Homo sapiens: one gene and its partner. The protein of the gene in region 1 purifies or fractionates together with the protein of each later gene. This does not show direct contact. Each region holds a gene or a part of one and is shown on either strand. Other genes may lie near its edges. The genes, in order: PFKP and TMPO.

Region 1 (7,787 bases):
TAAGATCTGTTTTGCTCCTATCACAATCACGTATGCACCTCATGCCCTTACCTAACTTACTTTTCTTTCTGAGTCTTTCTCCCCACTTCCAAAATGAGGACACGCCTCTCTTGGGATCATGTATTTAGGCTTGGAGATAAGAAGTGTAAAGCTCTTAGAATACAAAATGTTTTCAACAAATGGTAGCTATGATCATCTTAATATACGGAATTTTACCATAATTTCACATCTGACAGAAAATTCCCCTGAAATTAATACGTGAATGTGAATATGTTCTCTCATCTCTAGCTACAAGCAATAGTCTTCTATGTCAGGGAAAATCAAGTACTAACATAGAATCAGAATAAAATGGTAAAAGAATGGGGACACTGAGATATTCTCGAGGAATAACCTACTTACTGTAAGGGTTTGTAAATCTGTGGCAGCTAAGACCAGGCCCTCTGAGTACATCTGGAGGTGAACTTCCTTAAAAGAAATGCGTCCAAATGCTCCAACAGGTTCAAGATCGTATCACCGAAGGGTAAAGCTCTTTACAGAGTCTACAAAAAAATTGTGACTTCAGCTCTGCCAGGGAAAGAGTGCCCAGGCGACCCGCCATGGCGGGCTTCCCCAGGGACAGCCCAGGTGTGACCCATGTGGGCTCGAGGCCACCATATTTGATGCCACCTGCAGAGCTGAGGGCAGCTGTCTCCTATTAACCCGAGGTTGCAGCAACCAAGCCGCGTTCCCCACATAATATTGGTTTCCAAAGTATCATTTTCCCCAGAAAAGAAGAGGCGTGGACTTACTAACCTTCAATATGTCTAACTCCTCCCAGGTGGCAAAACCAGGGTAACAGAGAACACCGCGATTCTGCCAATGTATCCTAATCTCACATGCCTGTACACAAACTCCCGCGCATTTTAGCAAGCTTTTGGACATGGAGCTCAAAGGAATGACCCATAAATATTTTCCAATACATGCAGTATCTTAATTTTTTTTCTTTCTTTTTTTTTGTAGACACAGAGTCTCACTATGTTGCCCAGGATGCTCTGGAACTCCTCGGCTCAAGCGAGCCTCCTGCCTCGGCCTCCCAAAGCACTGGGATGACAAGCATGAGCCACCGTACAAGGCCCACAGCACCTAAATTCCAAAATAACCTTGAAACCCTGACTTTCCACCCGCCCTGGTGGCTTCCAGAGATCAGTTCCTCTTCCTGTGCCAAAGGTTTCTTGTCTTTCGCGGCCCAGGTAAGGTCACTCAAGGTGCTCCCTCTGCTTCTGAAGGCCTTTGACTGAGAAGCCACTCTGGGTCCTATCCCGACCCCAAGGCGGCTCCATTCGTACCCGCACATCTCCGGGCCGGTTTAAGTCACGCGGGCCAGGCTATTTCCACTTCACTCTCCTGTTTCTTCAATCCCATCCTCTGCTGCATCACGTTTTCTTTCTCTGAGAACCCAGCCCTGCAGGAAGAACGTTGATGCTGGGGTCCTTTTACTGGAATGCTAACGCCAGAGCACTTCCCGGGGGCGCTGCAGGGCGGGCTGCGGGGCGGGGCCTGGCGCTGCCACCCGGGTCTCCCGCGGGGGGCGCTGGGCCTGGGGAGGCTGCGCTGCGGGCCTGGGGAGCGCGCGGCGCACGGGTGTCGGGGCCGGGGCTCGTGGAGACGACGGGCCGGGCATCACGTAGGCGCTCGTGGCGGGCGGGGCGGCGCCCACAGCGCCTCAACCTGCGGCACCCGCGCCCGCCCCGCGCGCTCAAGGGCGAAGGGAAGGTCACCCGCGCAGTGGGCAGGGGGTGCATCCCCGCTCCAACCCTGTGCAGTGCGCGGCCCCGAAACGGGAGGAAATCCGCCATCCGGGCCTTTCCACGCATCTGCGGCAGGAGGAACCGGGAAAACAAAAATCAAAACCCAGCTCGGGGCGCGCCGCGTCTCCAGCCTGCGCGATCGCTAAGGCTCCCAGGTTGCGTTCGCCTGGGAAGCGCCGATCTACCCGCCAGGGATTGCACGGATCGGGACACTCCATCATCCGGGCACCGGCGCCCCCACGTGCACCCGGGGCCTGGGGCGCGCCGAGTCTCCGCCACCTTCCGCTCTTCAATGTTAAATATCCTCCCGGCGCGCCCGCGTCCGTGGGCCCAGCCTCGGGCCCCTCCTAGAGAGCAGCTTCCACATTGCAGGGCAGGGAAGCCCGGAGCCCGCGCCGCGGCGCCGCTGACATCCCGGAGTCCCCGCTTCCTGATCCTTCCCGTCTGCGGAGGCTGGCGGGGAGGGCCTGGGACCCATTTTGGTTTTCGTTTTTGTCACGAGCCGGAAGGCGACAGCACATGCGAGCGCAGGAAACCCTTTTTAAAAATCTCCCAGCGGAAACGCGAGGGGCTGCCGGACCGCCCTGGAGACGCCAGGCGGGAACCCCGCGCACCCCCGCCGCGTCCCGCATTGCAGCAGCCAGGACCCCGCCCACGCCGCGCAGGGCACGAGGCGACAGGAGGCGCGCGGGGACCCAGCCGTTTCTTCCTCGACATTCTAGGGGGTGGCGTGCGGCGGAGTTGGGGGGCGGGGGGGCACTTAGGAAGTGATCGCGCTGTACCCACGCTTCGGAGGGGACGCCCGGCCCCGTCCTACAGCTCAGAGGCAGAACGACCCCCGAGGGCGCTTCAGGCGACTCCCTCTGCCAGGTTCCATTTAAAACAAAACCGAAGGTGGAAAACTCACTGATCTTCCGGATGGAGGTTCCTACCGCCATGTCCCTTCCTCCCCCGCCCCACCGGGCAAGGACCCCGGGGCTGCCTCGCCGGCTCATGCCGCCCCGCAGGTACCCCTGCCGCTTCCGGGCGCGGGCTTCTTCCCGGTTCTCCCCATCGCTTCCCCGCTCTTCTCCCCGGTTCTCCCCATCGCTTCGCCACCTTTCCCCGGGTCCCCCCCATCGCTTCCCCCCTCTTCTCTCCGGTCACCCCATCGCCTTCGCCCGGTTCTCCCCAGCTCCGTCCGTCCGTCCCTCCCTCGCCGCCGGGAGGGGGGCGCGCACCTTGAGCATCCCCGCCGCTGGTCAGCACGCCGATGGCCTTGCCGGCCCCGGAGAGGTGCTCCAGGAACTTCCGCAAGGAGCCCTTGGGGGCCCGGGAGTCGTCCGCGTCCATGGCGAGGAGGCCGAGGGGAGCCGCACGTCCGGGTGCGCAGCAGGCAATGGGGACCCTGCCCGCGCGCGCCTGACTCGGAACCGCCGCCCCGCCCGCGCCCCCGCCCGGCCCCAGCGCCAATGGGCGGTGACGGGCGGGGCCCGAGCGTATGGGAGGGGCTGCGGGGGAGGGGGCGCGGGCGCGGCTAGGGGCAGGGGCCGGGGCTGGGGCGGGTGTGGGCAGGAGCATCTACGCGGGGGTCGTCGTAGGTGGGGGCCGCGCTAGCGGTGCGGGAGGCGGCAGAGGCAGGGGTAGCGCCACAGGTGGGCGGGTCCCTGCTAGTGGGGCCGCATCGCAGGTGCGCGAGCCTCGCGGGTGGGCTGGAGGACTCTGGTTGGGGGCTCTAGAGATGACGGGAGCGCCACAGGTGGGGCAGGGGCAGCGTCCGGAGGAGGGGAGACCGCAGGGGGCCGGGGTCACATCGTTTGCGGGGCGCGCCAGGGCGGGGCGGGATAGAACGCCGGGAGCATCTCCCGGGGGGGCGAGGGAGACCGTGAGTGGGCGCGAGCGCCGGGGCGGGTGGAAACCCCGCAGTTGCGGGGAGCGCCGATGGCGGGGAGGGGTGGAATGGGGGCGCGGAGACCCCACCTGGACGCGGAGGCTCGCGGCAGGCCCGGCCGCTCGGGCCGTTGTGGGGGCCGAGCCCGGCCGCGCGCACAGCTTCTAGTGGCCCGCAAGATTCCTCCTGGGGCGGCGCTGGGAGCCTCGGGGCTCGGCTTCCTCGACCCCCGCCCCCAGGTTTCCTCTGCAGCCTGAGGTCGGGAAGGACGGACGGAGAGTGGATCCTCCAGGTGGTGGGAAAAGGTGAGCGTGGCGGGCTGGGCCATGACGAAGCTGCCATTTCCCGGGCCCATGGGGGCTGTGGTGCTCCTGGGCCCCCAGCCCCGCCCTTGGGGGGAAGAAGCCGTGGGGTGGAGGAAGGTATCGGGGCGCGACCCTCAGAGACGCCCTGGCGGCGCCCCGGCCTGGGCGCTGGAAAGTCAGAGTGGGGCAGGAGGAGGCGCAACAGGACTGGCCTGGCGGGGAGGCGGGGAGGCGGGAGGACCCTCCCTCCCCACGGACACGCGCGCTGCTGTACGCTCTGCCTGACCTCGGCCGGCTCCACTGGCCAGCTCCACGTACTGAAATACTCACATCCAATGCACTGTGCGGTTGCCCATCCACAGCTTAACAGCCTGGTGCCAGTTACCCTGCGATGGGAGAGGGGGCAGCCCCCATAGAAGCACGGGCTTATGGGACCCGGGTTCCTTCAGTGCTCACCCACGAAGAAGGGCTCCCAAACGGCCCCACTCGACGGCTCACCGGAGGATGGTCCTGCGCAGTGGGTGTTTGTTGAACAGATAAGAGACAACAAAACAGACTAAGAAGAGGCCTGTTCTATGAACCGGGGAAAGTGAAGGAATCACAAAGAGCGGCTCGCCTTAGGGCAATCCTGGGGAAAAGATGGAGAGGCATGGATTTTTCTTGGATGTGTGCCTCATCCTGGGGCTCATCCCTCTGAGCATCAAATATTCATTGCAAAAGAGGGGGAAAAACTCTGCTGCGGACAATGCTGGATGGTCTGATCTCTCCCTTGGCCAGAATTAACGGGGCAATTCCTAACCCCTGTTGGTCCTCAGAATCACCTGGCCTATGCACACTCCCGCTAAACCACTGAAGTCCAATTTCTGGGAGCTCAGCCAGGGAATGTGTATTTTTAAACAAGCCCCCTAGGTTACTCTGATAAGTGCAAAGTCAGAGAGCGCTGCTCTCATGCACTGAGCCTGAGCACTCTTCTATTAATAAAAAAGGAGAGGAGAATCCTGGGTTGGGTGCCCTTCGCCTTCTGGCGGCAGAAGAGCAGAGCCAGGCTCTAAGCACCTGCACCCACCGCTGGGCTCAGGAGCTGCGCTGGAGAATAGAAGGGCTAATTTAGTCATTCATGCCTTTTTAGAGCAAATTACATGTGGAGAGGGTGGGGCACACTGAATTTTATTTTAGCCAAATGCCCCTTATCTCCTTATGCAATTGATATTTTTATATTGAACATTAGAGGATTGGTCATTTGTCATCAAGTCGTCTGTAATACAGAAAACGATAAATACAACCTAACAGTTCAAACATGACGAGTTAAATAAATGATGGTTAAAAATATACGCTGCGATAATATTTAATTGCTGTTACCACTACGAAGATAAGTGTCGACTGACATGGAAATATGTTCAGGTCAAACAAATAAATGAAAAGGCAGGCCTGGACACAGTGTGAGCCTGTGCTTGCATGTGCGCACGTGTGCGTGTAAGTGTGTGTGTGAGTGTGCACACACGTAAATGTTTCTGAGCATTTTATTTCCTTTCTTTTGCTTAGTATAGGTAATGCCATTTTTCTCTCCAATGAACAGGTATTGTTTGGGGAATAGAAATAGTTAATTAAAAACAATAAAATTTAGAGTGTCCAGATCCCCAGGGTTATGGATTATGTTCAAAAGTTTGTCTGTATGTAAGGGCTGGGGTCAGGGTGGTCACTGACCGTCCTCACACATCTATTCTCATGAGTTTGACCCATTGCTCAGTCAGTCAAGGAATTAACATATATTTATATATACCTGTAGCTAAGATGGAAAAGCATAGCTATGGCTCTTTTTTTTTTTTTTTTTTTTTTTTTTTTTTGCAAGTCGTGTATTTTAATGGTGCTACAACTAGAGATTTTTTTTTTGTTGTTTAATCTTTGGCCTGAGCAATGAATCTTCTAATTCAAGAGGAAGATACTGCATGCCTTGTTGACTGTACGGCTTCCACCCAGTAGGACCTGACATGTGTGTTTGTTCTTTATTGTCCCTTGACAGATTACTGCAAACTGTGGCCCACACCAGCACACACTTATACCACAGGAATGATTACTCCTTGGACCAGGAGTTCAGACAGGCTTCACTGGGCCCTCTGCCCCAGGGGCCCTCTGTGGCTGCAACAGGTGTCTGCCCAGGGCTACAGTGTCTTCTGAAGGCTCAGGCTCATCATGGGAGGAGCTGCTTCCACGCTCACTCCTGTGTTGCTGGCAGGATTCTGTTGCTTGCAGGCTGTTGGACTGAAGGCCCCAGTCTGTCCCTGGCATCAGCTTCAGGCTGCCCTCTGCCCTGGGCAGGTGACTGGCTTTGCCAGAACTAGCACATGTCAAGAGCCAGGGGGAGAATTCCAGTGGACGGAACCTGCAGCCCTTCCCAATCCAATCTCAGGAAAGACCGCCGTCTCTTTTGCCTGATTCTGTTCATTAGAAGTGAGCAACGGAGTCCAGCCCTCTTCGAGGATCTGGCTGTGAACACTAGGGGCAGGGGCCACGGGGAGCCACTGGGAGGGGAGGTGCTGCCTGGGACCTGCCTAGGACAAGGTGAAGGAGAACATGCATAGGGACAGATGCCCTTCCCACTTCCCCTCTGCGGTGAGCGCAGGAGCTGCCCATGTGCCCTAAAGGAGTCCTGCCATCCCAGGAGGAAAGCAGCTCCTAGCCATGAGGGCACCATAACCCTGTGTTCCGGCATGTTGGGCTGCACATTCCACCACCAGGGCTACCTGAGCTGCAGCCTCTTCCCTTCCCCTGCTGTTTCTGCCTGTGCATGGAGTAGGCATCTCAAATCTGCAGGGGCCAAACTGAGCTTAGGCCTCTGCACCCCCACGCAACCCCCCACCCCTCGGTCTTCCTCACCTCAGCTCCTGGTGACCCCATCCTCCCAGGGTCTCAGGCTGAAGCCTTGCAGTGCTCCTCTACCCTGGCATCCAAGTCTCTCAGGAAGGTCCCTCCTGGCTCTTCATTGCATCTGGAGCCACTGGGGCCAAGCTACCACCTGTGACCTGGACTGACACAGGCTCCCTCCCCATCCCCTGCTCTGCCCCCACCTCCACCCCACCTCCATGCCTCGGGTGTCCTCAGCTTCAAAGTCAGGGTGCACCTATCAGGATGTAATTCAGGCATCTCCTCTGCTGACTTGGGAGTCACAGGCCCCACACATGGCCCACTGGTCCATCGGATCCTAGTGCTGCCCAGAGACCCATGCAGGCACCCGACAACCTCAGGCCCAGCCTGCTCTTTCCTCAGCCCGGGCCCTCCTCTCCCTACCCACTCTTCCCACCTTCCTCAGGTCTGTCCTGCAAGGTCTCCTGCATGGTGAGGCCTCCCCAGATCACCCTGTTAGAAATTCGGGCTCCATGCACACTCCTGTTCCCTCCCCGCTTCTCTTAAAACAGCCTCATGCGTGTCACACGTGGGGCATTTCACCTATCTGCTGGGCTTCTCGACAGGCCCCCCTGCTGAACTCTGAATGCTGTGGATTCAGAGATCTTTGACTATTCCCTGTTGCAGGCCCAGGGCAACAGCAGAGCCCAGGACAGAGTGAACCTGCCATGGGTGCTGCTGAATGAATGGAGTGAGTGAGTGAAGGAGTAAATGAGTGAATGGGTGAGTGAGTGAGTCAGTGAATGAGTGAGTGAGTGGATGAGTGAAGGAGTAAGTGAGTGAGTGGGTAAATGAGTGAGTGAAATGAGTGGGTGAATGAGTGAACGTGAGTGAGTGAATGTGTGAGTGAGTGAATGGGTGAATGAATAAGTGAATGAACGAGTGACTTAGTGAATAAGTGAGTGAATAAGTGAATGAATCAAT
Region 2 (4,546 bases), on another chromosome or scaffold:
ACTAGGAGTGAGCTACTTTACCCAAAAGAACGCTTCAGAGGTTTGAAACTCAGAAGGCACCACCAAAGTTGTGAAAGGAGCAGGGCTGAACACAGAACTGGTTTAAAGCATGTAAACAGAGAATTGTTTGTTTTAGGTTCCCTCTGCCATATTATATGCAACCAGAGCCATCACTTCTCAGCTGTGTGCAAACATGAAGAAGCTTCCTAACACCTCTAACCATCAGTTTCCTCATTTGTAATGATATTACGAAAATGCCTACTCCATAGGATTATCGTGAGGATTGAGTGAATCAATACATATTAAGCACATAGAAAAGTACCTAGCACATGGTAAGCATGCAATAAAACTTGTTGTTTTAAGCCTTTGATGCGATTTGCCTTATAATTAATTATGGTGTCTATACTACCTTGAGAAACACTAATTTAAGTCAAATCACCTCTGGGGACACATGAATGAGGAAGACATAATGGCACTTTCATCTTGTGAGCACAGCTCCATGACGTATCACAGTGACACGGGCTTAGTCTCAAAGCAAGACTAACAATCATAAGGGTCATAGGTAAATACTAAAGACAGTAAAAGTGGTGGGAAAAAGGAACTAGGTGTGGGAGAGGTGCCTTGGAGCGCTTAATGTCATTCTGTGAGTACAGTAGCTACACATTGCTTACCTTTGAATAAACGAGAACCCGATTACAATAAGAAGTAAAACATATGAACAGACTGAAATAAAACACAATAATCCATAAATATCACATAAGAAATGTTATCCAGAAATCACAGTTTGTGCTATCTGAAAACCATTTATTGCAACGACAAAACTAGAGGTTAATTACTTTTTATTATTGAATTATATTGTAAAGTCTACATCTACAATTTAATCAGGAAGAAATGCTTTGCATTTACATCAAGGACACATTTATTCTAATGGAATAAAACAGACACACACAAAAGACCAAGTACATGTTTTTAAAAAATGACTACATGTTTCACCTGGTCCTATTTTTGCTATTTGGACCATACTTTTAAGTGAATTGATCTTACATACATGTTAAGTCTGATTTATCTCCCCACATTTTTAAACACTAAATGAAGCTTCTCACAATTTCTAATTATAAACAAAAGGCTGAAAACAGTATGGGAAACAAAGTTTCAAAACAAAGAAAAGTTGAGTAAAAGGTGCCCCCTCTATGGCTCATCTGAAAGAAACATTTTACTCAGAGAGGCAAACATTTCTGATCTAGGAGTAAGTTTCCCACTCACTTTGCAAGGACCCACTCATTCTGCAGAAAGACCTACAAGTCTTTCTGGTCTCAATTGCAAAGTACGTGAAAATGTGTATGAAAGATCTAAAAGCTAAATATTAGAATAAGGCTAATTGAAATCAAAATTGTGTGCTGGTCTAAATATACATCTTCGGCTTCTTCCTTTTTAGTAAGTATTTTTATTTCAGATGTATTTAAAAATAACTTACATTTTTAGTGTGCTTTATGGTCAATGACTGTAAAGTTGAAACTCAAATGAGTCAGTTTAAAATTTTTGTCTCATTTGATTCTATTGAAATTTTAATCACCTACTACTTTAATCAAGTTATTCATGAGGTAAGTTTCAGCTTAAAAAAAAAAATCATCCACAAAGATAACCATTTCAAGAGTACACAAAATCATAATGCCGGCCGGGTGCAGTGGATCACACCTGTAATCCCAGCACTTTGGGAAGCTGAGGTGGGCTGATCACTTGAGGTCAGGGGTTCGAGACCAGCCTGGCCAACATGGTGAAACCCCGTCTCTGCCGAGGCAGGAAAATTGCTTGAACCTGGGAGGCAGAGGTTGCATCGAGCCCAGATCGTGCCACTGCACTACAGTCTGGGTGACAAGAGTGAGACTCCATCTCATAAAAAATAAAAAAATAAAAAATAATCATAATGCCCACCTCTTAAGAGTATACAACTTTATTAACTACTGCTTATGATGTAATATAAAAGCAAGTACTTTTTGTACTTTTTTATTTTTTTTGAGATGGAGTCTTGCTCTGTCGCCAGGCTACAGTGCAGTGACGTAATCTCTGCTCACTGCAACCTCTGCCTCCTGGGTTCAAACGATTCTCCTGCCTCAGTCTCCCTAGTAGACAGGACTACAGGCGCACATCATCACGCCCAGCTAATTTTTTTGTATTTTTAGTAGAGACGGGGTTTCACCATGTTGGCCAGGATGGTCTTGATCTCTTGACCTCGTGATCCACCCGCCCTGGCCTCCCAAAGTGCTGGGATTACAGGCGTAAGCCACCGCGCCTGGCCCTTTTTGTACTTTCTAATCAAATTATGCTGGGAAATATAGGGCAAAAAAAGCTCGGCAAAATTTGTTTCTGGTAACAAGACAATGCAATAATGAATCCAAATGAAACATAAGACCAGTGTTTACAATTTCTAACTTCTAAACAAACATACACACACTTATCTAAAACATATTTTGGTAGCAAACTGGATGACTGAATAAATGTTTTGCTGTAAATAAAAAATACAAATTTCCAATTATAGCCTTATAGCTAGCTAAACAGCTTTTCAAAACATGTACAGCTAGCCAACAATTCTCTAAAATATGTATGTTACACTAAAAGATCTCTGCTAAAAATCTACTGTATGTAAATGGGTCTTACTGAAATAGGACTTTCATGATACTGTGTCTTAAAAAGTGAGTATGATAGGGCTACAACAACATTACTATTAATAAAGGTTACAGAAGAGATTATTGCTGTACTTTTCCTCATAAACACCATCAAACTTTGTTGCAGTTACAAAAAGTACAACCAAGTTACTTTTCCTCTTACTGAATTTCATTATGTTTCACATATTTGCAGTTTTTATTCAGCAGAGAATAATTCTTAAAATCTTTTCTGTAAGAATTCTAAGTATTTAAATGTGTAGCTTCACATTATACTACCATGTTTCACCCTTCGTTTCCCAAATACACAAAAAACATATACATTTTTTCAAAAATGAAATAAGATGCCCACATTAAAAAAATAAAGCCTACAAAAAGTTCCAGAGCTAAAAAAGATTATTCATATGGCACAAAGTGATCTCCTACTAGTCCAAAGTTCAAAAACATTTTAATGAAGTCCATTTATATATATTTTGTTTGCTTTTCAATGAAATACTACATTTATTGAGGCGAAATCACATTATTTTTAGTTCTTGGAGTCAACAAGTGTACACAAATGTTTTTCAACAGTTATTGAAAATAGGAGACCAAGTTGAACGTGCCAAAGAGATACCATTCAGTTGGATTTTCTAGGGTCAACATGAAGAAAATTAGAGAAGGGATTTACTTGGTTGGTTTCCATAGCTTGATAGACCAAAAACAAAAAAACTGCCACAACAACAAACAGCAAAATTTTTATCCATACGGGAATGGAGCGTCCCTTTTTTGTCTTTTCTGACTTGACATCTGCCAAGGGAACATACTTAGGAACATATTTAGATGAAAAAGACTCCTCCATCCTGAAATCACTGAGTTCTAATGGCCGGCCTGCAGCCCCTTTGATTGGTCTGCGGCAACTAGCACTGTTGGGAGTGAAAGGAGGAAAAGAAAAATAATTTTAGATAAAGGCATGATTTAGAGAAATAACATAAAATGTCATTGCCACTCCTAATTCCAAGCACATTCCCTGAGGTAACAGTAGAAAATTGATACATATAAAGCAGTGAGGTCAGTCAACCTATTTAAAACTTCTACATATTTTCTATTTTAAAAGTTAGATGGGCTGGGCATGGTGGCTCGCGCCTGCAATCCCAGCACTTTGGGAGGCCAAGGCGGGCAGATCACCTGAGGTCAGGAGTTCAAGACTAGCCTGGCCAACATGGTGAAACTCTGTCTCTACAAAAATACAAAAATTAGCCGGGCATGATGGTGGGTGCCTGTAATCCCAGCTACTCAGGAGGCTGAGGCAGGAGAATCGCTTGAACCCAGGAGGTGGAGGTTGTAGTGAGCCGAGATCACGCCACTGTACTCCAGCCTGGGCAACAGAGCAAAACTCCGTCTCAAAAAAAAAAAAAAAGTTCGATGCATCCTTTATTAGAAAAGAATATTCAGAACACTGATAAATAGTCACTAAACCTGCCTTCTTAAAGGCTCTTCAAAGCTCATGTTTAGGAGTAAAGAGGAAAAACAAAACAGTTTTGGCTGTGTTTCTTTCAGTTAAAAATTAAGATACATAAACACAGCCTTTTCAATTAGAAAAGAGAAACTTAGGGGGGAAAAACTATTTCTCACTAGATTTTCGTTTAGATTTTAACATATGAATTTAAGTAGTAAGTAAGTGATTTATTTAAAATCCTCCATTTACCAATCGCAATTTTGAAACTCATTCAACTTTCAAGAATATTTACTGGTGGGCTTAGGGGAATTAAACTGCTCCCAAAAGAACAGTTCGTTCACTTATTTATTTAAAAGTCGGTGGGTAGACAGAGTCTCATTATGTTGCCCAGACTGGTCTCGAACTCCTGGGCTTAAGCAATCCACCTGCCTTAGTCTCTTGAGTAGCTGGG

Evidence for each region.
Region 2: the proteins of PFKP (region 1) and TMPO fractionate together in Homo sapiens (co-fractionation; 2 studies listed by BioGRID). This does not show direct contact.

What each region holds. Positions count from the first base shown.
Region 1 is NC_000010.11:3,062,928-3,070,714, reverse strand, and holds the start of PFKP (ATP-dependent 6-phosphofructokinase, platelet type), read right to left. Parts: upstream 3,168-7,787; 5' UTR 3,120-3,167; coding exon 3,008-3,119; intron 2,746-3,007; exon of another isoform or gene 2,726-2,745; coding exon of another isoform or gene 2,695-2,725; intron 2,089-2,694; exon of another isoform or gene 1,794-2,088; intron 1,527-1,793; exon of another isoform or gene 1,334-1,526; coding exon of another isoform or gene 1,326-1,333; intron 1-1,325. Other genes in the region: wiskott-Aldrich syndrome protein family member 1-like, read right to left, coding at 3,575-4,012. UniProt on the Homo sapiens protein: Catalyzes the phosphorylation of D-fructose 6-phosphate to fructose 1,6-bisphosphate by ATP, the first committing step of glycolysis.
Region 2 is NC_000012.12:98,546,589-98,551,134, reverse strand, and holds the end of TMPO (thymopoietin), read right to left. Parts: intron 3,563-4,546; coding exon 3,277-3,562; 3' UTR 784-3,276; downstream 1-783. UniProt on the Homo sapiens protein: May help direct the assembly of the nuclear lamina and thereby help maintain the structural organization of the nuclear envelope. Possible receptor for attachment of lamin filaments to the inner nuclear membrane.